Homo sapiens: one gene and its partners. The protein of the gene in region 2 purifies or fractionates together with the protein of the main gene of each other region. This does not show direct contact. Each region holds a gene or a part of one and is shown on either strand. Other genes may lie near its edges. The genes, in order: RCC2, RPS6KB1, GTF2I, PPP2R2B, PLD2, RIN2 and TERT.

The links.
Region 1: the proteins of RPS6KB1 (region 2) and RCC2 fractionate together in Homo sapiens (co-fractionation; one large-scale study listed by BioGRID). This does not show direct contact.
Region 3: the proteins of RPS6KB1 (region 2) and GTF2I fractionate together in Homo sapiens (co-fractionation; one large-scale study listed by BioGRID). This does not show direct contact.
Region 4: the proteins of RPS6KB1 (region 2) and PPP2R2B purify together in Homo sapiens (co-immunoprecipitation; one study listed by IntAct). This does not show direct contact.
Region 5: the proteins of RPS6KB1 (region 2) and PLD2 purify together in Homo sapiens (affinity purification with western blotting, with the first as the bait; one study listed by BioGRID). This does not show direct contact.
Region 6: the proteins of RPS6KB1 (region 2) and RIN2 purify together in Homo sapiens (affinity purification with mass spectrometry, with the first as the bait; one large-scale study listed by BioGRID). This does not show direct contact.
Region 7: the proteins of RPS6KB1 (region 2) and TERT purify together in Homo sapiens (affinity purification with western blotting, with the first as the bait; one study listed by BioGRID). This does not show direct contact.

The regions. Positions count from the first base shown.
Region 1 is NC_000001.11:17,412,178-17,415,677, reverse strand, and holds part of RCC2 (protein RCC2), read left to right. Parts: intron 1-1,960; coding exon 1,961-2,141; intron 2,142-2,499; coding exon 2,500-2,605; intron 2,606-3,483; coding exon 3,484-3,500. UniProt on the Homo sapiens protein: Multifunctional protein that may affect its functions by regulating the activity of small GTPases, such as RAC1 and RALA. Required for normal progress through the cell cycle, both during interphase and during mitosis.
Region 2 is NC_000017.11:59,931,121-59,934,620, forward strand, and holds part of RPS6KB1 (ribosomal protein S6 kinase beta-1), read left to right. Parts: intron 1-501; coding exon 502-602; intron 603-3,049; coding exon 3,050-3,140; intron 3,141-3,313; coding exon 3,314-3,404; exon of another isoform or gene 3,405-3,408; intron 3,409-3,500. UniProt on the Homo sapiens protein: Serine/threonine-protein kinase that acts downstream of mTOR signaling in response to growth factors and nutrients to promote cell proliferation, cell growth and cell cycle progression.
Region 3 is NC_000007.14:74,744,718-74,748,217, reverse strand, and holds part of GTF2I (general transcription factor II-I), read right to left. Parts: intron 3,461-3,500; coding exon 3,277-3,460; intron 2,336-3,276; coding exon 2,277-2,335; intron 1,882-2,276; coding exon 1,807-1,881; intron 204-1,806; coding exon 102-203; intron 1-101. UniProt on the Homo sapiens protein: Interacts with the basal transcription machinery by coordinating the formation of a multiprotein complex at the C-FOS promoter, and linking specific signal responsive activator complexes.
Region 4 is NC_000005.10:146,644,758-146,648,257, forward strand, and holds part of PPP2R2B (serine/threonine-protein phosphatase 2A 55 kDa regulatory subunit B beta isoform), read right to left. Parts: intron 1-3,500. UniProt on the Homo sapiens protein: The B regulatory subunit might modulate substrate selectivity and catalytic activity, and might also direct the localization of the catalytic enzyme to a particular subcellular compartment.
Region 5 is NC_000017.11:4,813,652-4,817,151, reverse strand, and holds part of PLD2 (phospholipase D2), read right to left. Parts: intron 2,735-3,500; coding exon 2,651-2,734; intron 2,520-2,650; coding exon 2,441-2,519; intron 1,677-2,440; coding exon 1,566-1,676; intron 1,389-1,565; coding exon 1,218-1,388; intron 611-1,217; coding exon of another isoform or gene 572-610; exon of another isoform or gene 533-571; coding exon 406-532; intron 216-405; coding exon 97-215; intron 77-96; coding exon of another isoform or gene 7-76; coding exon 1-6.
Region 6 is NC_000020.11:19,764,758-19,768,257, reverse strand, and holds part of RIN2 (ras and Rab interactor 2), read right to left. Parts: intron 1-3,500. UniProt on the Homo sapiens protein: Ras effector protein. May function as an upstream activator and/or downstream effector for RAB5B in endocytic pathway. May function as a guanine nucleotide exchange (GEF) of RAB5B, required for activating the RAB5 proteins by exchanging bound GDP for free GTP.
Region 7 is NC_000005.10:1,264,069-1,267,568, forward strand, and holds part of TERT (telomerase reverse transcriptase), read right to left. Parts: intron 2,468-3,500; coding exon 2,396-2,467; intron 525-2,395; coding exon 336-524; intron 1-335. UniProt on the Homo sapiens protein: Telomerase is a ribonucleoprotein enzyme essential for the replication of chromosome termini in most eukaryotes. Active in progenitor and cancer cells. Inactive, or very low activity, in normal somatic cells.

The DNA of each region.
Region 1 (3,500 bases), on a different chromosome or scaffold from region 2:
AATGCAGTGGTGGGATCTCAACTCACTGCAACCTCTGTCTTCCTGTTTCAAGCTATTCTCCTGCCTCAGCCTCCTGAGTAGCTGGGATTAGAGGCACCTGCCACCATTCCTGGCTAATTTTGTATTTTTAGTAGAGATGGGGTTTCACCATGTTGGCCAGGCTGGTCTCAAACTCCTGACCTCGTGATCCACCTGCCTCGGCCTCCCAAAGTGCTGGGATTATAGGTGTGAGCCACCGCGCCCGGCTGTTAGTGTATCTTTTAATTTTAATGGCCTTCCTGTGGTTCTTCTGTCTGAGAATGCCTAGGAGTCTCTTTGTTCTATGCTTTGTTGAAAAAGCCTGGGCTAGGATTCCAGAGATCAAGTTGGTCCTCCCCACTGAGTGGTCTCAGCTCACCACCTCCTTCCCTTGGAATCTTCTTGCCGATGAAGAATGCCCAGGGAATTGGGCTAGGACTAGGGTAGGAGATTTCAGTTTGTGCAAGTCCAAAAACTGATTTGTTTTGTCTGATGTAGTCAGGGGAAATAAAGTTGGCTCTTGTTTAGGGCCTTATAGGCCAAGTTTTTTAGTAAGTTGTAGATTCCCATGGTTTAGACATGAAACATCAAAGAACTGAATTGGCATGTCAGAAGATGGGAAAACGAGACTGAAGAAGATAAATCTTAAACACTTGAAGTGTCTCTGAGTTCATTTCATCAGTGACCAGGTACAGGTTACCTCTGTACCTGTGGGTGAGGGAAGTCTAAAGAAAAATCCAGGCCGGGCGCAGTGGTTCATGTTTGTAATCAGAGGACTTTGGGAGGCCAAGGTGGGCAGATCATTTGAGACCAGCCTGAGCAACATGGTGAGACCCCCATCTCTACAAAAAAACCACAAAAATCAGCTGGGCATGGTGGTGCACACCCAAGTCCTAGCGACTTGGGAGGCTGAGGTAGGAGAATCGCTTGAGCCCAGGAGGTGGAGGTTGTGGTGAGCCGTGATCGTGCCATTGCATTCCAGCCTAGGTAACAGAGCACGAGACCCTCTCGAGGGGGGGAAAAGAAACGAAAAATCCAGGAACAGGTAGGCCTTTTCTGTTCTTTCTGCAATTGAATCTGTTTTTTTTTTGTTGTGTTTTTTTTTTTGTTTCGTTTTGTTTTTTTTTTTTGAGATGGAGTCTCATTCCGTCACCCAGGCTGGAGTGCAGTGACGCTATCTCGGCTCACTGCAGCCTCCGCCTCCCAGGTTCAAGAGATTCTCCTGTCTCAGCCTCCTGAGTAGCTGGGATTACAGGTGCACACCACTGTGCCCAGCTAATTTTTTTGTATTTTAGTAGAGATGGGTTTCACCATGTTGCCCAGGCTGGTCTTGAATTCCTGAGTTCAGGCAATCCACCTGCCTCAGCCTCCCAACGTGCTAGGATTACAGGCATGAGCCACTGCATCTGGCCGAATCTCTGTTGTAGTGGGAATCAAATGATTGCCCAACTCTCAGGAGACATAGCCCTGTTGCTTCTGATTAAGGAAAGGGTTAAGACTTGTAACTTAAATAAATAAACAGAACAAAAAAGGATTGGAAAATGGAGTCCCTGGCAGAGAAAATAGCAAACTGGGCTTATTGAATGCATGCCATTTTGCTACACTTGCTCCTGTTGCCTCCTCCCCCACTGCTGGAGGCGGGAGGTAGAGGATCTTTCTGCTGGAGGCAGGCAAAGGATATTTCTTTGGTTTTTGGAGACAGGGTTTCACCATGTTGGCCAGGCTGGTCTCAAACTCCTGACCTCAAGTGATCCACCCACCTTGGCCTCCCAAAGTGTTGGGATTAGATGTGAACCACCGTGCCCGGCTGGTAGGGGATCTTGAATGTTGCTGTTCCTTTGCCCTTAGCATTTGCACCAGGTTGTCTGCACAGAAACGATGACCCCTCTTGTTGCCTGTTGGAAGTCTGTTTGTTCCAACCCTGTGTTTTCTTTCCTTGCAGCTGGTCCTGGACTCCCAGAAGCGAGTCTTCTCCTGGGGCTTTGGTGGCTATGGCCGGCTGGGCCACGCAGAGCAGAAGGATGAGATGGTCCCCCGCCTGGTGAAGCTGTTTGACTTCCCTGGGCGTGGGGCTTCCCAGATCTATGCTGGTTACACCTGCTCCTTTGCTGTCAGTGAAGTGGGTTAGTGATTTCTGCCCCCTGGCTTATCAGTGCTCTGGTGCGGAACCGTGTAGCCATTGTCCTGTCCCTAGACCACGAACCCCAATTCTCTTTACCTCCCAGTGTTCTTTATTTTTTTGAGACAGGAACTCGTTGTGTTGTCCAGGCCGGTGTCGAACTCCTGGGCTCAAGCAGTCCTACCACCACAGCGTCCTGAGTAGCTAGGACTGCACAGGCACGCCACCACGCCTGGCTCCAGTTATCTTTTAGACAGAACACTTGTTTGCCATCCCGTCCTCTTTTCACCCTGATAATACTGAAGATGAGACTCAGCTCTCGATGTCTGGTCACGCTGGGAACATGTTTTGTCTTCCCTTAGGTGGTCTGTTTTTCTGGGGGGCCACCAACACCTCCCGTGAATCTACCATGTACCCAAAAGCAGTGCAGGACCTCTGCGGCTGGAGAATCCGGAGCCTGGCTTGTGGGTAGGTGGCAGCATCTCCTGTGGGTATGAGGTCTCTTCCTTTCATGGGGGTGTCAGACACACCCATGGGGTGCCCCTCCCTGATGGGGCTCTGTTTCTGCTGCCTGTTGGGCTGTCCTCAGCAGGCCATCTGACACACTGAATCCCAGAGTCCGGGGGTACAGGAGGGGAGAGGGCCCATTTGCTGCTAGAACAGATGGCTGTTCCCTGTCTTGTGGGAAGAAAGTCATTTTGAAGGTTTCTGTTCAAAGAAATAAACAAGCAGAGCTTGATGTATTCCTACGCTGCAGGTTGAAAATTATACGTAGTTGGAAACGTAGCAGGACTTGAGTTGCTGTGACACTGGGAAGACGACATTGTCTTGGCAGCAGTGGTTTGTAGTTCATTTCAGGACACCTGTTGAGTTAGCTAGCACTTCTTGCTGAGGAGTTGGATTTATCAGCTGGCAGGTGTGGGTGGAACAGTATGAGGGGCCTCTGTCGGCGTGGCTTTAATCTGTTGAAGGCTCTAGCCCTGCCCAAATCATTATGCATGAAGGCTGCTCCCTCTGGAACAGGCTTTCACTTTATCCTGATCTGGTCTCCTCTTCCCAAAGCGACCTCCCACTGAGAGAGAGCTGTGCAGGATGCACAGCAAGGTCCCCTGCCTTTGGCCCCTAGGCCTGTCTAAGGGCTTTGTTGTTTTGTTGAAGCGTTGAGTGGCCTGCACGGAACAATCTTAGGATTGAGGAGAAACCTGTTGGCCCTGTTATTGTGTTTGCTACTTGGAATGAGTACGCCAAGGGAAAAGTGGCAGCTCACACTCATGCCCTTGAGCCATAGCTGCGTGGGTGCAGGTCTGGGGCTGCTGGCCCTGCAGTGACAGCCTGCCTGTTTGCAGGAAGAGCAGCATCATTG
Region 2 (3,500 bases):
TGGGCCTCAGCTGTCTATAAATATGTAGCTGTATTAAGTAAGGGATGAGTGGGCTTCTAAGGGTCAGGTTATAAGATACCTTTTGAAATCAAGATGTGATCTCTGAGAATAACAAAGTTCCTATTTCCTATGGGATTTTAAAGTTGGGTGTGGATGGGAGAAATTTGCTTGAAATGAATGGCTATTAGCTTAATTCCTACACAGACAGAACAAAACATGACCAATGGCAGTTTAGCATATTCTGGACATCTTTGCAATTTTAGCAATATATTCTAATGGCAAAATAAAGCACTTTATAGTTTCACTAAAATGAGTGAAACATAAATGTCCCCATGCCTTTTGGCAGCATCCTATGCCATCTCTTTTTCCAATACATCCCCCTACCCCACTAATTTGGTCTTTGGTGCATGTCTGTTTCTTTCAAGGAATTTTGCTCCATACGTAAACTGCTTTGGATAGATTACACTCTTTTTAATTTTATTAAATCACTTTTGTTTCCAGCTTTTACTTGGCAGAAATCTCCATGGCTTTGGGGCATTTACATCAAAAGGGGATCATCTACAGAGACCTGAAGCCGGAGAATATCATGCTTAATCACCAAGGTGGAGACATACCGTAAACAATTCTATAGTAAATAATCATCTTAAAATCCTCCCACATAGGTCGTGGCCATTTTCAAAGCCCCAAATTCATCTCTCTATTTTGTATATTTCCTCCCTCAGAATTCATGGCATCATAGTACTTGCTGATATTTTAAGTCTTTAGGTAATTACGCTTGGTGAGAGTAAAAGAAGTTGAGGATAATAGTCGCTCAACTGCCTTTTTTAGTTTAATCCTTACTCTTTATAGTTTTTCATGTTTTTGGAATCTTTACATCAAATGTTGTATAATGTTTTAGACTGTAAAAGCCAGTCTAAACATTAATTTTGGCTTGTTACTTAAATTGAAAAGTGAATCTCAATTATATAAGTTGAGTTTTAATAATGAAAATATGTAAATATTGGCTGGGCACAGTGGCTGACACCTGTAATCCCAGCACTTTGGGAGGCTAAGGTGGGTGGATCACCTGAGGTCAGGAGTTCAAGACGCCTGGCCAACATGGTGAAACCCCATCTCTACAAAAATACAAAAAAAAAAAAAAATTAGCTGGGCATGATGGTGGGTGCCTGTAATCCCAGCTACTCAGGAGGCTGAGGTGGGAGAATCGCCTGAACCCAGGAGGCGAAAGTTGCAGTGAGCCAAGATCGCGACATTATACTCCAGCCTGAGTGAAAAGAGCGAGACTCCGTCTCAAAAAAAAAGAAAATATGTGAATATTAGAAGCTATGCTTCTTACAGTAGGTTTTATTAATGCTGGGAAAAGGATTGAAATTGAACCAAAGTATTTGATAAAACTTTGGAAATATGATGTTTAGTAGGCATCAGGTTACTTTTTTTTTTTTTTTTTTGAGATGGGGGTCTCACTCTGTCATCCAGGCTAGAGTATGGTGGCATGATTACAGCTCACTGCAACCTCCGCCTCCCAGGCTCAAGTGATCCTTCCACCCCGGCCCCTCAAGTAGCTGGGGCCACTGTGGCACACCACCACGCCTGACTAATTTTTGGTATTTTTTGTAGAAATGGGGTTTCATCATGTTGCCCAGGGTGGTCTCAAACTCCTGAGCTCAATTGATCTGCCTGCCTTGGCCTCCCAAATTGCTGGGATTACAGGCATAACCCACCTTCCCCCCAGCCAGAATCAGTTTATTCTTGCTGTTTGTTTGTAACAACAAACATAAACATCAGAGAGACTGATAATCTATACAACTATAGATATAGCACAGTGAGCCTTGACTACAACTGCATGCTGCTAAAGACAGCTCAATTTATGCTAATCTGGGCTGTAGGTAGACTTGGCAATTCACTCGTACCCCAAAGGAGCAACCAGCTGACCCAGGGTATCTAGAAGGTGGTAGCAGCTGCTAATCCTTAGATGTCTACAGAATAATCCATGAGGTAGTTAATTGTTTCAAACTCTTAGAAAATGATGTATGAACAACTGAGGCTCATATAAACATTCCAGATTATACTCCTCCACCCACCTTTTTTTTTTTTTTAAGGAGAAATGATATACTTAACTGAATATATCATGGGAATCAGTGTCTCTTCCTTCCTCTCATCAACACCTCCTCACTCCCCAAAACGTGGATTCTGATCTGAATTATAAGTCACAGGATAGAATAGGGGAGCGATAGAATAGTTAACTTCTTTGATTTATAAGGTTGAGTGTATCAGATGGTTCTGTGAAAATAAAGGCCATACTTCTTCTGTATCAGAGTGTAGTATATATTTACATTTGAATCAATAGGTCATTGTGCCTTTTCTGTGAAATGAACCTCAAATACTAGAGTCCCTGAGATTGTTGAACCACTTGTTATGACAGTCCAGTAAAGAAAGCTAAACTTGAACTGAAATGATCTTTGTGTAAGGTGGTAAGTTTTTTACTTTCTGGATCAGTGATGATTGATTCATACTATCTAGCAATTTTCTTTCTTTCCCCTAATTGGTAGCATTGGGCAGAATGAGCTACCTTGTTATAATGAGTTTCTGAGACCATTTTAAGGACTCTTCACAGTTCACTGTGATAAAAGCTATATATTTGAAGTACTGTCTCACACCTTTGTTCAAAAGGTACAGAGTATGTTTATTGGGGTCTGTGTACGTAAACTAGACTTCATAAAACAGTTTTCCCAGGATTTTTCTTTTTCAGGATGGTAGAGAATTTTGTATATACTTAAAGCTAGAGCCTTAAACAGGTTATTTCACTTTTTTCTCTATCTTTATTTTCTCTTTACTAGATAGATTGTATCATTGGCAAAAGGTGACTTTGCCCTAGCCTTAAACAGTTAGCATCCCATTTTATGGATGGTACCTTGTTCTTGACATCTGCAAGAAAATTTGAGGCAAGAAAAGTTAAATGGAAGGATAGATTAAAGTATTATGTGACATGTTCAAACACTGCACATACTTATAATTCGGAGAATAATCATGCTGTAATCTTTCATTGTAGGTCATGTGAAACTAACAGACTTTGGACTATGCAAAGAATCTATTCATGATGGAACAGTCACACACACATTTTGTGGAACAATAGAATACATGTGAGCTACATGTTAAACATAATTGGTTTGGGGGTAATAGCTAATTTTACCTGTTTTAAGGAATAGTATCTGTTTTCTGTACCCTCATTGACTCTGTATATTGTTTTTAAAATTCTAATTCAGATGATATGCAAATGGGTGAATTTTTAAGCATATTATTTTCCTCATTGTAGGGCCCCTGAAATCTTGATGAGAAGTGGCCACAATCGTGCTGTGGATTGGTGGAGTTTGGGAGCATTAATGTATGACATGCTGACTGGAGCAGTAGGTGCACAGTTAAAAGCTGCATGTATTATTGGTCTGTGCTGAGTCACTATAGCAAGAGACCTGTCCTGTGCTTTCTGAACATGTTACCAGTGG
Region 3 (3,500 bases), on a different chromosome or scaffold from region 2:
TACTGACTCACCAATAGGAACAATTCACCTGGTAAAATGAAACATAATGAACGTATTCTATTTAAAACTATGAAAGAAAGAAAAATAAAACGCTTACTTACCAAAGGAAAACTCTCTCCCTCGTGGCTTGAAGGGAACGTTAGAACCGTTAGTCTGGGTCGGGGTTCGAACAGCTGAGGTTTGAGGATTGTTGTTATTAGGGCCTAAAAGACAGAAAAAATAATGATAATCAACACACATTTAATGACGTAAGTGTCTCTAGGTTACAATCTTCAAGTCCAGCCTGTGCCAGAAAACAAAGCTAGGTTCAAATTGAAATGGGTATTCTTGTCATTCCGGCGAGTTCCACAGAAACCATTTTTCTATTTCTACAGAAACCCATTTTTCTTCTCTTCTTCTTCTTCTTCTTTTTTTTTTTTTTTTTTGAGACAAAGTTTCGCTCTTGTTGCCCAGGCTGGAGTGCAATGGCGCAATCTCGGCTCACCACAACCTCTGCCTCCTGGTTTCAAGCGATTGTCTTGCCTCAGCCTCCTGAGTAGCTGGGATTACAGGCATGCGCCACCAGGCCCAGATAATTTTGTATTTTCAGTAGAGATGGGGTTTCTCCATGTTGGTCAGGCTGGTCTCGATCTCCCAACCTCAGGTGATCCGCCTGCCTCGGCCTCCCAAAGTGCTGGGATTACAGGCGTGAGCCTCCACGCCTGGCCCTAATTTTGTATTCTTAAAGCAGGCCTCCCAGGCCCCGTGAACTTGGCTCTGCCCTTTAGGAAAGGCTGGCATCTTGTATATAAGAGAGATCTTCCTCTGATCTCTTCCGGAAGGAGGAAAGTCAAGGGTTCAATATATTTTTAATTCTTGGCATTTTTGAACAGAAATAATTAATCAGGTGTAAGTTGTCCATGGATGCTTGTTGGCTATCTTATGAGAAAGCAGGCTCTCTGAAAGTGTGCCACATGACTAAATAGGGACTTCTGCGCCACTCAACACCAGTACGGCAAACTCTTATTTAAAAACTTGACACCTGGGATGTAGAGAATGATCCTAATGCAGTGATTTCCTTCTGCATTTATGAAGAGATGGAAGAAATATCCATACTTGACAGTTGGTTGGAGATTGTCTTTAGTATTGTATGCAGTATTTTAACACTGTGAGCCTGAAAAGACAAGAACCAGCTGGGCGTGGTGGCTCACTTGAGGTCAGGGGTTCGAGACCAGCCTGGCCAACGTGGTAAAACCCCGTCTCTACTAAAGATATAAAAATTAGCTGGAGTTGGTGGTGGACGCCTGTAATCCCAGCTACCTGGGAGGCTGAGGCAGGAGAATCACTTGAACCCGGGAGGCGGAGGCTGCAGTGAGCCGAGATTGTGCCACTGCACTCCACCCTGGGCAAGAGAGCCAGACTCTGTCTCAAAAAAGAAAAAGAAAATACTTTTATTCAAGGCACTGCTGTTTAAACCACCCTAAACTTTCTTTCCTTAAAACAATAGAAAAAAATGAAGAGGAAAAAAAAGATAAAACATTCCACATGACTCTGCACCCTTATTTGTTATGATAAAGGAAAAGCATTTTAGGACTTTTCTTGGGGGAAGTTTATGATGTGATCCATGTTATCTGTTTTCTATTAAGGATTTAAAAATTTTCAATTAGAAGCATTCAGAAATTTAGCTTTATCACAGGCAGCTGTTCACAGTTAAAAGCTAGTTTGGTTAACGTCATCTGTATAAACCTGTATAAACACATAGCTAGTGAACTGACATAATTAGTAAACTAGAGAATGAACAGAAACATACCGAGGACTGGCCCTTACCTTCCACGGTGACCTCAATTTCAGGAACCTTTGAATTACTCCCAGGACTTCGTGGTCTTTTGGGGGACTGCAAAGCTGTAAAATAAGCAGAGTTCCTTTTGTATATTGTAGGGAAAAAAAAATACAGAAGGAGATGCTTTATAAGAGCAGAGTATTAAAATTCATACAGTTTGGTTCTTTTCAAAGAAACCTGCAGAATTAAACTTGTAGTGTAATCCTCCACAGGGGCTCAACAAAGCTGTGAAAACATGAATGAACTGGGATTGCAAATGTGACATTTCCAATGAAATGTTTTGTTTTTTTAAAAAAAAAAAAGAAAAATAGTTCCATTAAATAAAATACCTTAGAAAGCAAAGTAAACAACTCCAAGCCCCACAGAGATATTGGCCGATTCCGTATGATTTAAGGAATGCGGATAAAGAGTGTCTTAATGCGCTCAAATAGGATACGGAGTACACGTCGTCTCTTACCTTTAGTGTTTATTTTACTAGCCATCCCAGGAGGCAAGTAGGAAATAACTAGTTCAGGTCTAGAAAGAAAACCAAGAAGTGTTACAGTAGCCAGCACAGTGGTGGCCTCACAGCTAGTAAAACGGTCGTGATGTGATCAGGGTTTTTTTTCTAAAGGCATTCACAGAATCATCCTGTAACACAATAATTCCTAGTGTTGTGGACAAAAGACCCTGACTTTTCCTTCCCATGACTGGTAAGCCATTTTATGAAGAGTAAATAAGTGACTATTTTCATTAAAAAAGAAAAAAAAAACACTAGTGTACTTTCTTTAGCCACTAAAATTCTGCAGAAATGTAGATAAGAAAATCAATCATTAGGCCGTGCACGGTGGCTCATGCCTGTAATCCCAGCATTCTGGGAGGCTGAGGCGGGTGGATCACCTGAGGTCAGGAATTCCAGACCAGCCTAGCCAACACGGTGAAGCTCCATCTATTCTAAAAATACAAAAATTAGCCAGGCGTGGCGGTGCAAGTCTGTAATCCCAGCTACTCGGGAGGCTGAGGCACGAGAATTGCTCGAACCCAGGAGGCGGAGGTTGCAGTGAGCTGAGATTGCGCCACCGCACTCAAGCCTGGGCGACAGAGCAAGAGTCCGTCTCAAAAAAAAGAAAGAAACTCAATCATCAATATTTAGTCGCTCTCAAGATTGACCAGGAATAACAGAGCAGATAAAAACCAGCAAATTAAACTTCCATTCAAGTACTCAGGCATACTGCGAGTCACCACGGGGCCTCACGGTGACTCCGCGGAGGCGATTGTCACTATTTTCCTTGCACGGATGAAGATGATTGAGTATGGGCAGGGGCAATGGACAGTACCCGGACTGCAGCTCACAGCCAGGCTTTGCCATCAAGGACTTACAGCCACGCCTGTCACCTCTAGCTTGAAAAACATCTTAACAGAAATGTCATTTTATTGTTTTGATTCCAGAAACGACTACAGTGGCAAAAAGAACTTACTTTTTAACAACGAACTTGATTTTATTACTCCCGCGGACGATCCTTTCAAGTCGTGGAATTCCAAACCAGGTAGGGCTTCGGAAGGGAATCCCCTCTGGCAAGCCTTCCACATACAAGAACTCCGGGTTTGATTCAAACACAGGATATGGTACTTTTACTGCCTCGGTGAGTCCAAGAGCTTGAGCTGAAAGTGCAAGAGAACGTTAAGTTGCGGAGGATAACAT
Region 4 (3,500 bases), on a different chromosome or scaffold from region 2:
ATTAAACAAGATAATGGAAAAGATAATTTAAGTGGTTTTACACTGGAGTGAATATTCCTTCTTCTGAAGGAAGCACATATTTCTCCAAGGATAGGGTTTATATGCATTGCCTTTGTGAGGTGACTTTCATATGCCTCTGTCCCTTTGCTGCTGATTTTGCTAATACTGACATGCGTATTTCCCCAATTCCTGTCTAAGCCAATGGAGGATAAGAGAGCCAAGTAGGACGCTTTTCTGCAGGGCTGAGTATTATAAACATTGGCCAAGCTGAAGAGTGGAATCTATGTTTACCAGGGTAAAGTACCCACATTCAAAAGCAGCTGAGGCTTTTCATATCCCACTTAAAGTCTGCCAGTACTGAAGGTAGAAAATAGTAATATCTTTGTGTGAACACAGCGTATTTGTTTGATGAGTGTGATTTCCTTTTAGGGACATGAGTTGCTTTGAGATCTTTTTCCCTTTCCATGGTCTAAATTTAATCTTTGGATATTAAGCAATGATTATGAAACATAAAGATCTTATTAGCTGAAAGGACATGTTGCTTGATGATGAGACACTGGAAATCTCCAAAGAGGACTCCAAGGGATATTCCTCTCTTAAGAGCTTAAAAAAAAGTCAATGTGTAAATATTCATGGAGTGTTTGCCAATTCCTAGGCTCAATATGAGGAGACTGACAAAGAGACACATGGTGTCATATTAAATATGTATTGGGCAGGGTGAAAGCCACTGAAGCAGCAACAGGGGAGAAACTTGTACTAGACCCCACAGTTCCCCTGGAAGCCTGCCTGGCAGAATCCCACTGAATTAAAAGGAAGCTGCTGTCCATGGTAGTAATGAGTGCTAGAACCTGGAAGCCAAGAGTTGAGGCTACCTGGTCCCTTAATTAGGGAATCGACTCTAACAGGGCTTCAGCTTGGTTGACAAATAAAATGAAGCCACTGTACAGGGTTGTTAGGACCAAGGTCAAAGTTGAAGTATCCCTAGAGTCCAGCTGGCTTCTCCCAGATAAGTCCTCTATCTCATATTCAGAGACTGGACTTCTGAAAGGTGAGGCTTCTGCTACCCTTCCCAGCCTTGCTTACTCCATGCTCCACTTCACTCTCTGGGCTTCAAAAATAGTGGCCTTCTTAGAATTCCTCCAACATGTCATACTCTCTCCTGCCACAGGACCTCTGTACACACTGAACACATGTCTCCACACCTCTTTGCCAAGTTAGTTCATAGTCTTCCTCTTTCAGATCTTAACTAATTCTTCAGCAAAGCCTTCCCTGGTCTATAGCAGGATTTTTAAAAATGCATTCATAGAACCATATTCCCTGTCTTCACAGAAATTATCTCAGTTTGTAATTATATACTCAGTGTATTTGATGAACATTACTCTGAAAGCGGCAAATTTGTTTTTTCCCATTTTCATGCCTGGCACAAACTAGGTGCTCAATTTATCATCGTTGAGGGCTAGTCTTTATTTTTACTCGATATGGGCCTATTTAATAGATCCCATGTTGGACAAGGTAAGAACTCAGGTCAGTTCATTCTTAGTCCTGCAAAAAGAGTTCAAAGGATTCTAGGTATACCATAGTTTTCATAAAGAAGCAACATCTTTTAATATAAATTTTCATTTATTGCTATTGTCTCTTGCCCTAGAAAACTACTAATCTATTAATGAGTTGTTATAGTCCTGATGTAGTTAGCCTATTAAGACGAAAGTTTGACTGCTTATGTGGGAAACTGTTACACAAGACAAGGACAGACTGGCTATGGATGGAAGGGAGAGAATTCATGACCAGTTATCATGAGGTTTAGAAATGCCTTGCTCTGATCTGGTGCTAAACACAAGGCCCTAGACCTCAGAGTTCCTGAAAACATTTAGTAACTAGGGGGCAGCATCTTGCAAAGGACACCCAACTGCAGAACCAAAGGAAGAGTCTAGAATTGAAAAGACAATCCAGATAATAAAATTAGCAGAATAAAAGCTACCATTCTAATGTTCAACTTTTCTAGTTTCCTTGTTCTCTCAATAATTATCATGATTGTGCTAGTCCTGTTTACTGAGCATTTGCTTAGCAAGGCACTACCCTAAATGTGTGCGTGCGTATGTGTGTGTGTGTGTGTTTAATTTTCATAATCCTCTCGTGATAGAGCTGCTTTCTACAGATGAACAAAATGAGAAATGGAGGCTTGGATAGATTAAGAACATGTTAAAGCTTATACAGCCAGAAAAGTGGTAGGGCTGGGTGAGACCTCTATCACTTGTTGGACTCTGAAGCCTGAGTTCTCAACCGTAATGCCAAAGTCACACCAAATGCCAGTCACAGGAAGTCATGACTGTTTTCTAACCATATCTCCAGATCCCTTGTCTCACTATTTACTTAATGCTTTACATACACTTACTTTGTAATCTAAATAGATTTTGAATATCTATGAAATTGTAGGATATGATGGTTATGTTTTTTGACGTTCACTATTGCTTAGAAGCACATTGCTTACCATCCCCAGTAGTAGCCACACTATGCTTTGGGAATCCCAAATTATTCTATCCTGAACCATGTTTCTTCTGTCTCCTTTGTGAATAAGGGGCATTGTGGAAATGAGACCTGCCTGGTGGCTGGTATTTTTCTGAGACTGTTTTGAAAGATGGCCGCTTCCTACCCCAGAGGTGGCTATACTTCAGTGATGAGAGGCTCAGTGCTTAGGGCGGTCTGGTTGAAAAGAACTATATAGATATCACTTATCATCGTTCTCATGATGACAATGATTATTTTACATATGGCTGCTTTAAGGGTGAATGGCACGGTCTCATTTGTATGCCAGCATCTGGCAGTCTGTCACACATCTGCAGAATATAACCTAAACTGCGCTGTTAATATTTCCCCTTTGCATTCTCCCCAAGGCATCTGTCTCCCAAAATGCCTAAAGAAACTCCCCTCCCCCTTGAAGGCCTAGAGGCAAAATTCAGAAAACATGTCACCTAGACTGGGGAAGCAGAAGCTCAGAGTGACAGCCAGCTGAGCCTGAGCAGATTTCTGGCTCTTGGAATAGATGGAGAGAGAAAAAGGGAACCACCACCCACACTCATTCTATTAGCAGCTGCACTGCCAGGCAAAATCTGTAGGCAGGCCCAGACAGCATGTGGAGTCTGTTCCGTGATCAACAAAATATGCCAGGCATGGTCCTGATGGTCAGTTCTCATTGTCTCCAAATATATCTCATAATTGCCACTATCTGATTAAAGCTGCCTTCCCTGAAAGCCCTTGGAGACGGTTGAGTGCTCTCCATGGTGGAGACTAGCTAGCTGTGTACCAAAACCGGGTCTTTTTATCCTGGGCACACAGCCAGACTACATTTCCTAGGCTGCCTTGCAGTTAAGAGTTAGCCATGTGGCTGAATTCTAGCCAATGGAATGCATACTTTTTTAGGGCATGGCTCAGAGGAATCTCCCACTTGTGATCTTCCATGACCTTCCCCTTTTACAGTCCTGCTATAAACATGGTAACATTGG
Region 5 (3,500 bases), about 55 Mb from region 2:
GGTGGTCTGACGTGGAGGGATGGCAGAGTCAGCAGGAGGTGCCAATCTGCCCTGGCTCCCTCCCTACCTCCAGCCCCTATCGGAGGGAATGAACACCTTGGTGAAGTTCCAGCGCTGGATGAAGTGCCGGGCAAGGTCCCGGGCCGGTAGGCCATGGACGACCACCCCAACGTCCCGCCATGGCATCCGAGGGGTCGTCTCCCTGTCAATGAAATCTGGGGGGTCCCAGGAGAGTCAGGGGAGATGTCAGGGCTGGACTCCTTGGGACACTTGGGGCAGGGAGAAAGAGCCTGCCAGAGGGAGGGCTGTACCACCGTTGACCCCTCTCATCCCACTCTCAGTACCAGCCCCAGCTTCTGACCCTGCTCTCAGCTCTCTGGGGCTTTGGCGGGTGGGAGGCTTCACCTTCGAAAGGCCGGTCCAGCTGCACCCAGTCCTTGGTGATAAGATTGCTGTAGTCCTTGCCCAGCCAGAAGAATTGGTTGTGAGAGAGGTCTGGGGTGGCTGGTGAGTCTGGGCGCGGGGTGGGAGGCTGTAGGGGGAACACACCCAAGCCAGGGGCAAGGGGAAGTCATGGGGCTGTACAGAGCCAGGGCCAAAGAGAGGAGCACTGAAAGAGTGAGAGAGACCGAGAGGAAGAATGAAACAGAGGGTCTGATTCCCCAGCCCTCCCCTCCAGTTGCCTTTGACACTTTTAGAGGAATGGGGTGATGGTCAGTGAAAATGGGGAAAGGACTGGGTGGGTGACAGCACTTTTTTTTTTTTTTTTGAGACAGAGTCTCGCTCTGTTGCCCAGGGTGGAGTACAATGGCACAATCTCGGCTCACTGCAACCTCCGCCTCCTGGGTTCAAGTGATTCTCCTGCCTCAGCCTCCCGAGTAGCTTCAATGACAGGCAACTGCCACCATGCCCAGCTAATTTTTTGCATTTTTAGTAGAGACAGGGTTTCACCATGTCGGTCAGGCTGGTCTCGAACTCCAGACCTCAGGTGATCCACCCGCCTTGGCCTCCCAAAGTGCTGGGATTACAGGCATAAGCCATGGCTCCCGGCCAGTTACAGCACTTTCAAAGTGGGTTCTTGGAGTCCCAGAAAGTCTGAGGAACCCTGAGGTTGGCAGGGCCTGGAATGACTGAGGGGGTAAGGCTGGAGCTGGGAAATGGTGTTGATTGAGCTTATCTGAGTTTGGGGGTGCTCAGGAAGGCCTCAGGGGGATTACCTGGGAGGCAGCTGATTCAGAGGAGTCTCCAAGGTCAGTCAGTCGGTAGTGCAGGTCATCCCAGCGGCCATAGGCAAGGTCCAGTCCCCCCAGGAATGCTACCACTTGGTCCACCACCAGGAGCTTCTCATGATGGGCCCACAACGTCACTTGGTCTGGGTGACGCATCACCTGGAGCAGGCATGGAGGGTTCATGAGGGTGGGTTTAGGTGAAGGAAAACAGGAGGTACTGGGAGGGAGAGAGGAAAGATGGAAAGATGAGACCATCAGGGAGCGGGAGCGCTGGGGGCTGGGACAGTGTGGGGAGAAGGGCTGTCATGTGGGAGGGTCTCTGAGGCCGAGAGTCACCTTTATGTTGGGGTGCAGCAGCATCAGCGCCCTCTTGCTATAGCCACTGTTGATGCCCAAGGCCAATTCCACTTCTTTAAACAGCAGAATAGACACACGGACACCCTCCTCCTGGTGGTGAGTTGGGGAATCAGATCCTAGTGCCTCTCCCAGAGTAGCCCCTTTCCACACTCCCAAACCTTTTCCACGTGTGTCCCTCCAGCTTGTCTGGAGATCCTAGAGGCTCTGCCACATATGCCCTGCTTTGCTGCTTGCCACAGACTTAGACTAAATGTCATCTGTGTGCTCACCCACTCACCCATCCACACATCTATCCACCCACCCTTCATCATCCATCCATCCATCTTCCCAAGCATTTACTCATCCCTTTATGTACCGTCTATCATTCATCCATCTACCTGCCTACCCTCCTAGCCCTCCACCTTTCCAACTCATATCCTTCCATCCATCACCCTTTCTGTCCTCTATCCATCCACCTGCCCAGCCACCCTGCATCATCCATGCATCCTTCTTCCTGTCCATCAACACCACACATGCCCCCTCCATGGCAGGTACTGTGCCTTGTAGTGGAACAGTGATATTAACTAGTCCAGTGAGAGAGATAGACATGTATACCCCCAGATAACACAATAAAGTATTATGTATACTGGGAGGGAAGTCTCTGCCAGGTGGAGGGAGCATGAAGAGGAAGTTGTCAGTTCTCCTTAGGGCAGAGGGAGAGGGCGGAGGTGATGTCTGACAGGTGCTGGGCCAGGATGGACACTTTTCCCTCCCCTGAAGCCTCAGACTGCCTAATTCTCCCACACTGCAGCCCTGCTAATCAACCTCCACCCACAGGCAACCCCCTCCCCCTGCGGCCTGACCACTCTCCTCACCGCCTTCCTCTTGAGCATAATGTCCAGTCTCCAGTCATCTGAATGGGCCGGACGCTTCAGGTAAACCTCAGGACTCAACCTGGGATTCAGGGCAGTGGATTAGGGGCAAACGAAGCCCCAGACCACCAGCTGCACCCCCCTTCTCCTCCTAATGCTGATCTGCCCCAGGCTCTATCCTGCCCCATGTTGTTGGGGCCTTTTCCCACTCACCACCAGTCTGTGATGAAAATCTCCTCTTGAGCTCGAAGGATGGCATCTGCCACAGCAGCAAAGTAACCTGCCCCATTCACAAACCTGGGGGGAGGCCAAGCCAAGGAGGTCAGGGGAGTCAGAAGCCAGAAAGCTCTGGAGAGTGAAGACCGGAGGACAGTCGTGGGTCAGAGGTGACAGCAAGGTCAAAGATCAGAAATGATCAGAGAACACAAGTGGTATCAGACACATCAAAATAGTGTTTGCCCATATGCGCTAAATACAAATAAAAATTACAAAAAGACACAATAACCTAATCAACTAAAGAACAGGAGGATTAATACATCATACATAAAGAACACCAATAAATCGACAAGAAAAAGTCACATGAGCCAACTGAAAAATGAGCAAAGAGTAAGAACTGACAGTTCACAGAGAAATTAAAATGGCCAATCGTGGCAAATGTTCAGTTTCACTAGTAAACAACGAAATTAAAATGAAATTACATTTAAAAAATCCATTAGATTGGTAATAATTCAAATCACTGGTAACATTCAATATCAATATTCAATATGCTGGGGAAGTGGGTATTCTCATAGACTATGGGAATATAACTTTTAGGAGACAATTTGGCAGTATCAAAAAATATATATATAGCTTTTTGGAGATGGTGTCCCGCTCTGTCACCCAGGCTGGAGTGCAATGGCATGATCTTGGCTCACTGCAACCTCCGCCTCTTGGGTTCAAGCAATTTTCCTGTCTCAGCCTCCCAAGTAACTGAAATTACAGGCGCCCGCCACCACGCCTGGCTAATTTTTGTATTTTTAGTAGAGACGGGTTTTTGCCATGTTGGCCAGGTTGGTCTTGAACT
Region 6 (3,500 bases), on a different chromosome or scaffold from region 2:
CCATGAATCCTCACCTCGGGGTCTGCTTCTAGGGAACCTGGTCTGAGACCTTCCCTCATCTCCTGTTATAGACAAGGAGCCTGAGATGCTATTTAGATCAAAACATAGGGAGAGACCAGGCAGAACCTGGTTTGTTTCCCTCACAGACTTTCTCCATCGTGACACACAGTCTGGATCATTGGGACATGACGCTCTCCTAAGTTGTCCTCCACTTGTCCTGCAGGTACAGTTCTTGCCTCCCTCCCTGGACTGAAGCCCTCAGAGGGTCTGGGTCACATCCTCCGTCTCTCTCCATGTTTCGCAGGAGACTTGCATTGATTTTTTTTTTTTTTTTTGAGACAGTTTTGCTCTGTTGCCCAGGCTGGAGTGCAGTGGCGTGATCTCGGCTCCCTGCAACCTCTGCCTCTCAGGTTCAAGTGATTCTCCTACCTCAGCCTCCTGAGTAGCTGGGATTATGGGCACCTGCCACCACGCCCAGCTAATTTTTGTATTTTTAGTAGAGACAGGGTTTCGCCATGTTGGCCAGGCTGGTCTCGAACTCCTGACCTCAGGTGATCCACCCGCCTTAGCCCCCACAAAGTCCTGGGATTACAGGAGTGAGCCACCACGCCTGGCCAGGAGCCTCGCATTCTAAGTGGTGCCATAATGAACTCGCAGGAGCTCAGAAAACAGTACCCCAAAATGAGGGCCTCAGAAGCAAAAGTCATTCTCTGACCTCCTGCCCTCTGGTCTCTCAGTCCCATCCTCCCTGAGGCTAGCCAGAGAAACTAGAATTCTCCTTCAAAGTGGGTCATAGGACCCATAACCTCTTTTCCCCAGAGCCAGCCACAAAACCTAAACTTACTGCTGTAACTTTCCCTCCACCATTCTGTGTAAAAACTGGCCATAAAGAAACTGTCTGACCTACTGTGACTAACTATAGGTCATAAGAGCATTCCGGAGAGGGTCAGCTCCATACCTGGAAGAAAGGAATGCTGCTCAGAGAGACCAGGAGGAATCTAGACAGACAGGCCTTGCTGGATCTCCCCAAGCAGTCTGTTCGCACTCAATCAGACTGTTTGTCCAGTCACATTTCTACACGGCTGTCCATATTTGTTGAACCTAAACATAAACACAATTTCCCCTGTATTTTGGGTCTTCATTCTGAAGGCTCCTCTGTAGACACGTTAAGTAAATCTGTATGCCTTTTCCCCAATTAACCTGCCTTTTCTGAGTTGATTTTACAGCAAACCTTCAGCAGGTGAAGGAGAACTTTTCCCTTGGCCCCTACAAACTCCACGTTCCTTCCCTAGGTGCTCCAAGCCTCTCTTGTTTCTCACTCTTTTTTTTCTTTTTTTTTTTTTTCTGAGATGGAGTCTCACGCTATTGCCCAGGCTGGAGTGCAGTGGCGCGATCTCAGCTCACTGCAACCTCCGCCTCCCGGGTTCAAGCAATTCTCTTGCCTCAATCTCCCGAGTAGCAGGTGCGTGCCACAACGCCCAGCTAATTTTTGCATTTGTAGTAGAGATGGGGTTTCACCATATTGGCCAGGGTGGTCTTGAACTCCTGACTTCAAGTGATCTGCCTGCCTCAGCCTCTCAAAGTGCTGGGATTACAGGTGTGAGCCATCACACCCAGCTTATTTCTCACTCTTTGTACTTGCCGCTCCTGCCTGGAACCCACGTGTTATTAGTTAACACTGATGATTCCATCCACCGTAGCTTAGACATCTCTTCCATTGTGAATCCTTTTCTGATGCCCAGGAAAGGATGAAGTACCCCTTCTGTATGCAACCACATTGCCCTTGAATAGAAAGTGGTCTGGGAACCAACCTTGAATCTGCCCTTTCCTAGCCCTGTTCTTTGAAATGACTCTACCTCTGATCCCAACGTCCCATGGAAGCACAGTTTAAAAGAGGGAGAGTGCCTAAGCTGATACTAAAGTGTAGTAGGTTATTTGTATTATTTAGATCATATATGTGGTCTAAGGTCATCCTGTAAACTGTTTAGGGAAAGACATTAGCTGCAAATATTGGGGAAAACTAGGGTATGAGGTGTGCCCAGAGACAGTGTTTGTCATACGAAACACACACCATCTGTTAAGGCAGGAATCCCGGAATACAGAGAGGATGGGTGGGTGCCCCATCCATGACAGATGGCCAGGAGCAGCCTCCCACCATGAGGGAAGGACAGGGAGCTGTCTGACTGTCACTTCAGACATCAGACCTCACAGGACTGAGGGGATAAGAAGCTTTGAAGAAGCCACCCTAATAAAGCGCCTCCGTCAACCTAGGAGGACCATTCTCCCCATCTGTGCCTGGTCCATCCCACTGGCTGTCCCTCCTTCCCTCCCTCCCTCTGTAGCCTCCTTTTCTCACAAGCCATGAAACCTTCCAAAGGGTCTTGCCATCCATGAGGATGAAGTCACCTTCCTTCAACAACATTAGTCTAGCAGAGAGCCAGAGGAATCTCCTAAACCCACCCCATCCCACCCCCAAGATCCCTGTGCTTACTTCATAAAAGGAAGAGGGATAAATGCCTTTTCTAAAAAGACAAGAGCCTCTGACTTTGTGGGATCCCTAAATTATCAAGGAGAAAAACCATTGCAAAGGAAAGCAACAAAGAACTTGAATTAGGGGTCTTCCAGTTCAAACTCAACACAAGTATGTCTGTCTCTCAAGTCAAGCACTGACCACACTGTCCTGCCCTTCCCAGTCTGTGTAAGTATCCCCTGCTAGGCTGCTAGGTCCTTGAAGCCTGGAATCCTAAAGGAGCGCCTACACACATGAGTGCAAATGAACCTTTGAGCCAGCCAAGGTCCCACACCTCCCAGCAGAGCTGAAACCAGAAGCCAGTCTCCTCCAGTCTGGGTTTGTGCCTTCCTCACCAGCCACCCCAGGGATCAGTGTGCATGTGTGGCCTGAACACATACAATCAATGCCCACTGGCTCTAATTCAATGTCATGGTTTCCCAGAAAAAGAGGATCCCAAACTATCTTTCGGGTCTTCCCAAATTAGGCTTAATATAATTCCAAACAAATCCCCTGGAATAAAATTTCACTGGAAGAATTAATAAGTGAATTTGCCAAGAAGATTTGGGGGTGGGGGAGAAGATAAAAGGGCAGAAAGTGGCCTGGCACGGTGGCTCACGCCTGTAATCCCAGCACTTTGGGAGGCTGAGGCAGGTGGATCACTTTAGGTCAGGAGTTCGAGACCAGCCTGGCCAACATGGTGAAACCCCGTCTCTACTAAAAGTACAACCTGGTAGGCAGAGGTTGCAGTGAGCTGAGATCATGCCACTGCACTCCTGCCTGGGAGACAGAGCAAGACTCTGTCAAAAAAAAAAAAAAAAAAAAAAAAACGCAGAAAGTGAAGTGGGACTTGCCCTTCCTAGTAGAATTTGTATGTGTTATGGAGCTGGGGAAAGGCAGGTTTATTCACCAAATGATGCCAGACCTAGGGGAAAACTATGGGGAAAAAGGAATAAACTTTTGTTCCTACTCTATAAACCACCTGCCAAAT
Region 7 (3,500 bases), on a different chromosome or scaffold from region 2:
TTCGGGTTTGGAGAGACTCACGCCCAGCAGGGCCCGGGCGTCTTGGGTTCGGATCCAGACTGCTTTCTGAAGACACCTCAGTGCACCCAGGTCTGGTGCACCATTTCCTTTTACCAAAATAGCACAGAAAACTGCTCCCGTTGTGAGCACCCTCACTCCCACAGAAAGATGCATTTCTGCTCAGCCCCAGATGGGACGAGGGGCACCCTGTGGCCTCTGACCCTTTGGGATTGGCAGTCGCCTGCCCCACACGGAAGCAGAGGTGGACGCAACGGCCCTGCAGCAGCACCTGCCCCAGCCGGGCACAGGCTCCACTTCCGGCCAGGTGCGCTCACCTGGAGTAGTCGCTCTGCACCTCCAGGGTCCGGGTATCCAGCAGCAGGCCGCACCAGGGGAATAGGCCGTGGGCCGGCATCTGAACAAAAGCCGTGCCACCCAGGGCCTCGTCTTCTACAGGGAAGTTCACCACTGTCTTCCGCAAGTTCACCACGCAGCCATACTCAGGGACACCTCGGACCAGGGTCCTAAGGCAGAGGGGCAATGTCAGCCCCAGGATGCGGGGCCGTCACCCAGGAGGTAACCTGACACCCTTGTTAAATGCTTTGGAAAACCCCAGAGAAGTGGTGATTTGGAGCAGGGTGCTGGGCCTGGCAGGAGCTCTGAGGAGCCTGGACCCAGCCCTGCTCCAGACTTCGGGGTGCTTTCCCTGTCTCCCGGGCAGGACAGGTAGGTGAGCATGCAAGAACCTGGCCTGGACCCGGGACAGCCAGGACTCAGATGGGAGGTGCAGCCCCAGTGGCCTCTGTGATGGTCCATCTCATGTGTCCCCATGGCAACACCACAATCCCGTTATAGACTCATCTGTGGTCCGGGGCAGACTAAAATCTGGACAAGAAATTGCCACCATCCCACCTTCTTTTAAGACGTTTCTCAACGACTTTGCCTGTTTTCTCCTAGATGCCCTGAAGGCATCTGCTGTGCTTTAGACAAAGGGGAGGGTTCTGAGTTCCTGCTCAGGCGCGGGACCTGGCTGGGCTGTGAGCTGGGCAACACCAGTCGTCAGCTTCACGTCAAGGAGGTTCCCTCGCCGAGTCATGAGCCTCGCTCACCCAGCTCAGGGAGCCCCCCTGTGCCCGGTAGCCTCTGCTCTGGCCTGGGCATCCCCTTCCCTTCCTGCGGCCTCTGCTGTGGCCCCGGGCGTCCCCCTGCCCTTCCTGTGGCCTGGCCCTGGGACCTCGGCCAGCTGCGCAGCTCCCCTGGTGCATTCCCAGCTCCCTGTGGCCACCCCTTCCTGTTACATGGCTGCCGACTCATCAGAGACAGAGTTCTGCCCCCGGTGGGACCCCAACATACACTCTGAGCCACCTCCCTGGCCAGCACCCTCAGGAACTTGCCACACAGAAGCAGCGTTCCCCGTCTGCTCTGTCCCCTCAGCAGCCTCAGGACTCCTGAGCCCTCAGTTGCTTGGGACCTGGGCTCCCCCCGAGTGAATCTTAGTGGATTTAAATGTGCACAGCCTGCTGTGCTCCGGGCTGCGGCACAAGGAACGCCAGGCATACCCCCAGCCCAGGGCGGCCCTGGAGGGTGGACCTGGAGGGTGGACTTGGAGGGCGGGTCCAAATGGGTTTTCACAAACACAGCCCAGCAAAGCACCTGAAACCACCCCTGGCGGCCACATTTTCTGAGGGTTCCCTTTACAGCTTTCAAGGTTTCTCGTCCCTCGTCAAATCGCACTTTAAAACAAGCCCACCGGCTCTGTGGGGCGCCCTTGAGGGGGACCACATTGGACAATCCCCTGTGCTGAGGCCAGGTCCCCTGTGCCTGATTTTAGTTTGATTCACAAAAATCAACTCTGAAACCCACTCCTAGCCATCTCCGTGGTTCAAGACAGCAGCACTCAGCAAATCCAAATTCTCCCACCGATCCCAAACAACCCCACGCAGGAACGTGACCGCAGCGAACGCTGTGGGCCAGCTCACTCAGCAGCTCCTGCTCTCCGCAGGCTCAGGTGCACCCTGGGGAGGAGGCTGCCGCCTCGGCCCTGCAGGCCCTGTGCACAGCTCCTGGGGGTCTCACTGGGGCCCCAGGAGCCGCCACTCTTGACTTTCCAAAGAGCAGCAGGAGCCAGGTCACCGCCTGCACTCACCACGTGTGTAACCTGGGTGCGTCTCTGCAGGACCAGGGCCTGCACGGTACCCACTCCCTCCCGAAGGTGCCCCTGCGCCCCCAGGCCTGGGTGCACGGCCAAGCGCCTCTGCTCTTGCGGATCCAGCACCGGCAGAGAGAGAGGACTTGGCAGAGACAACGCTGCGGTGCCAGGGGCAGGACACGGGGGGCTCAACTGCAAAGCCCACAGGCTGTGGAGGTCCCCACAGACACACGGCACGGGCCTCACCTGAGGAAGGTTTTCGCGTGGGTGAGGTGAGGTGTCACCAACAAGAAATCATCCACCAAACGCAGGAGCAGCCTAAAATAAGGGAAAATACACAGCAAGGTTAACTTTACACTTTTTACGTAGTATCTGTCTACGAGGGACTGAATGTCAAACAATTTACACAGCCATAAATAAAGTAACATTCTCCAAAGCGGTTAAATGAAAAACTTAAATTTCTTTCCAACAGACGAGCTCTCTACAGTTAACTGCTACAGCAATTCCTCATTCATTATAAGTACTCAGTGTTTACCATCAGCTTGTGCAATTCTGTGCCAGCTGAAGACGAACGAAGGCCATCAGGCGCGGCCCCACTTCTCAGACTCTTAGGGAAAAATAACTGAAGACGGTAAGAAAGCTGGGGCTGGGAACCTCGCCCCCTCTGAGCCACGTGGTGCCCTTTACCAGCATGGCAGCTGTGGTCCTCAGCATGATCCGAGACCCAGATCCTATCCACAGGAAGCTGGGCATGGTGCACTGTGTGACCCTCAGGCCCAAGCCCAGCGCCCCATGACCATGGGCCAGAGGTATCCTGTCCCAGAGGGCTGACCAGTGTGCCGCCAGCTCGAGGACACTTTCCTCCAAATCCCAGAGCAAGTTGTGTGTACAAGAAATTTTTGTTTCTGTTACATAAACTTATTTCAATCTAGAACTTGAACCTTAATGAAGAAGAACCTTGATCCACTGTACATGCTATAATTGGAGCTAGAGTTTCAAAAGATGCACAGGAAAAACCCGGAGTCTTCGAGAGAAATGGCTGTGTGGCCTGCAGGCTTCCTGACGCATCCTTCACTAACTGTCTGCTTGTTCAGTGATACTATTTTCATAAAAAAATAACTGCTGTCCACATCCTCTCCAGCACCAGAACACTTTTACACTGTTGGTGGGAGTGTAAACTAGTTCAACCATTGTGGAAGACAGTGTGGTGATTCCTCAAGGATCTAGAACTAGAAATACCATTTGACCCAGCCATCCCATTACTGGGTATATACCCAAAGGATTATAAATCATGCTGCTATAAAGACACATGCACACGTATGTTTATTGCGGCACTATTCACAGTAGCAAA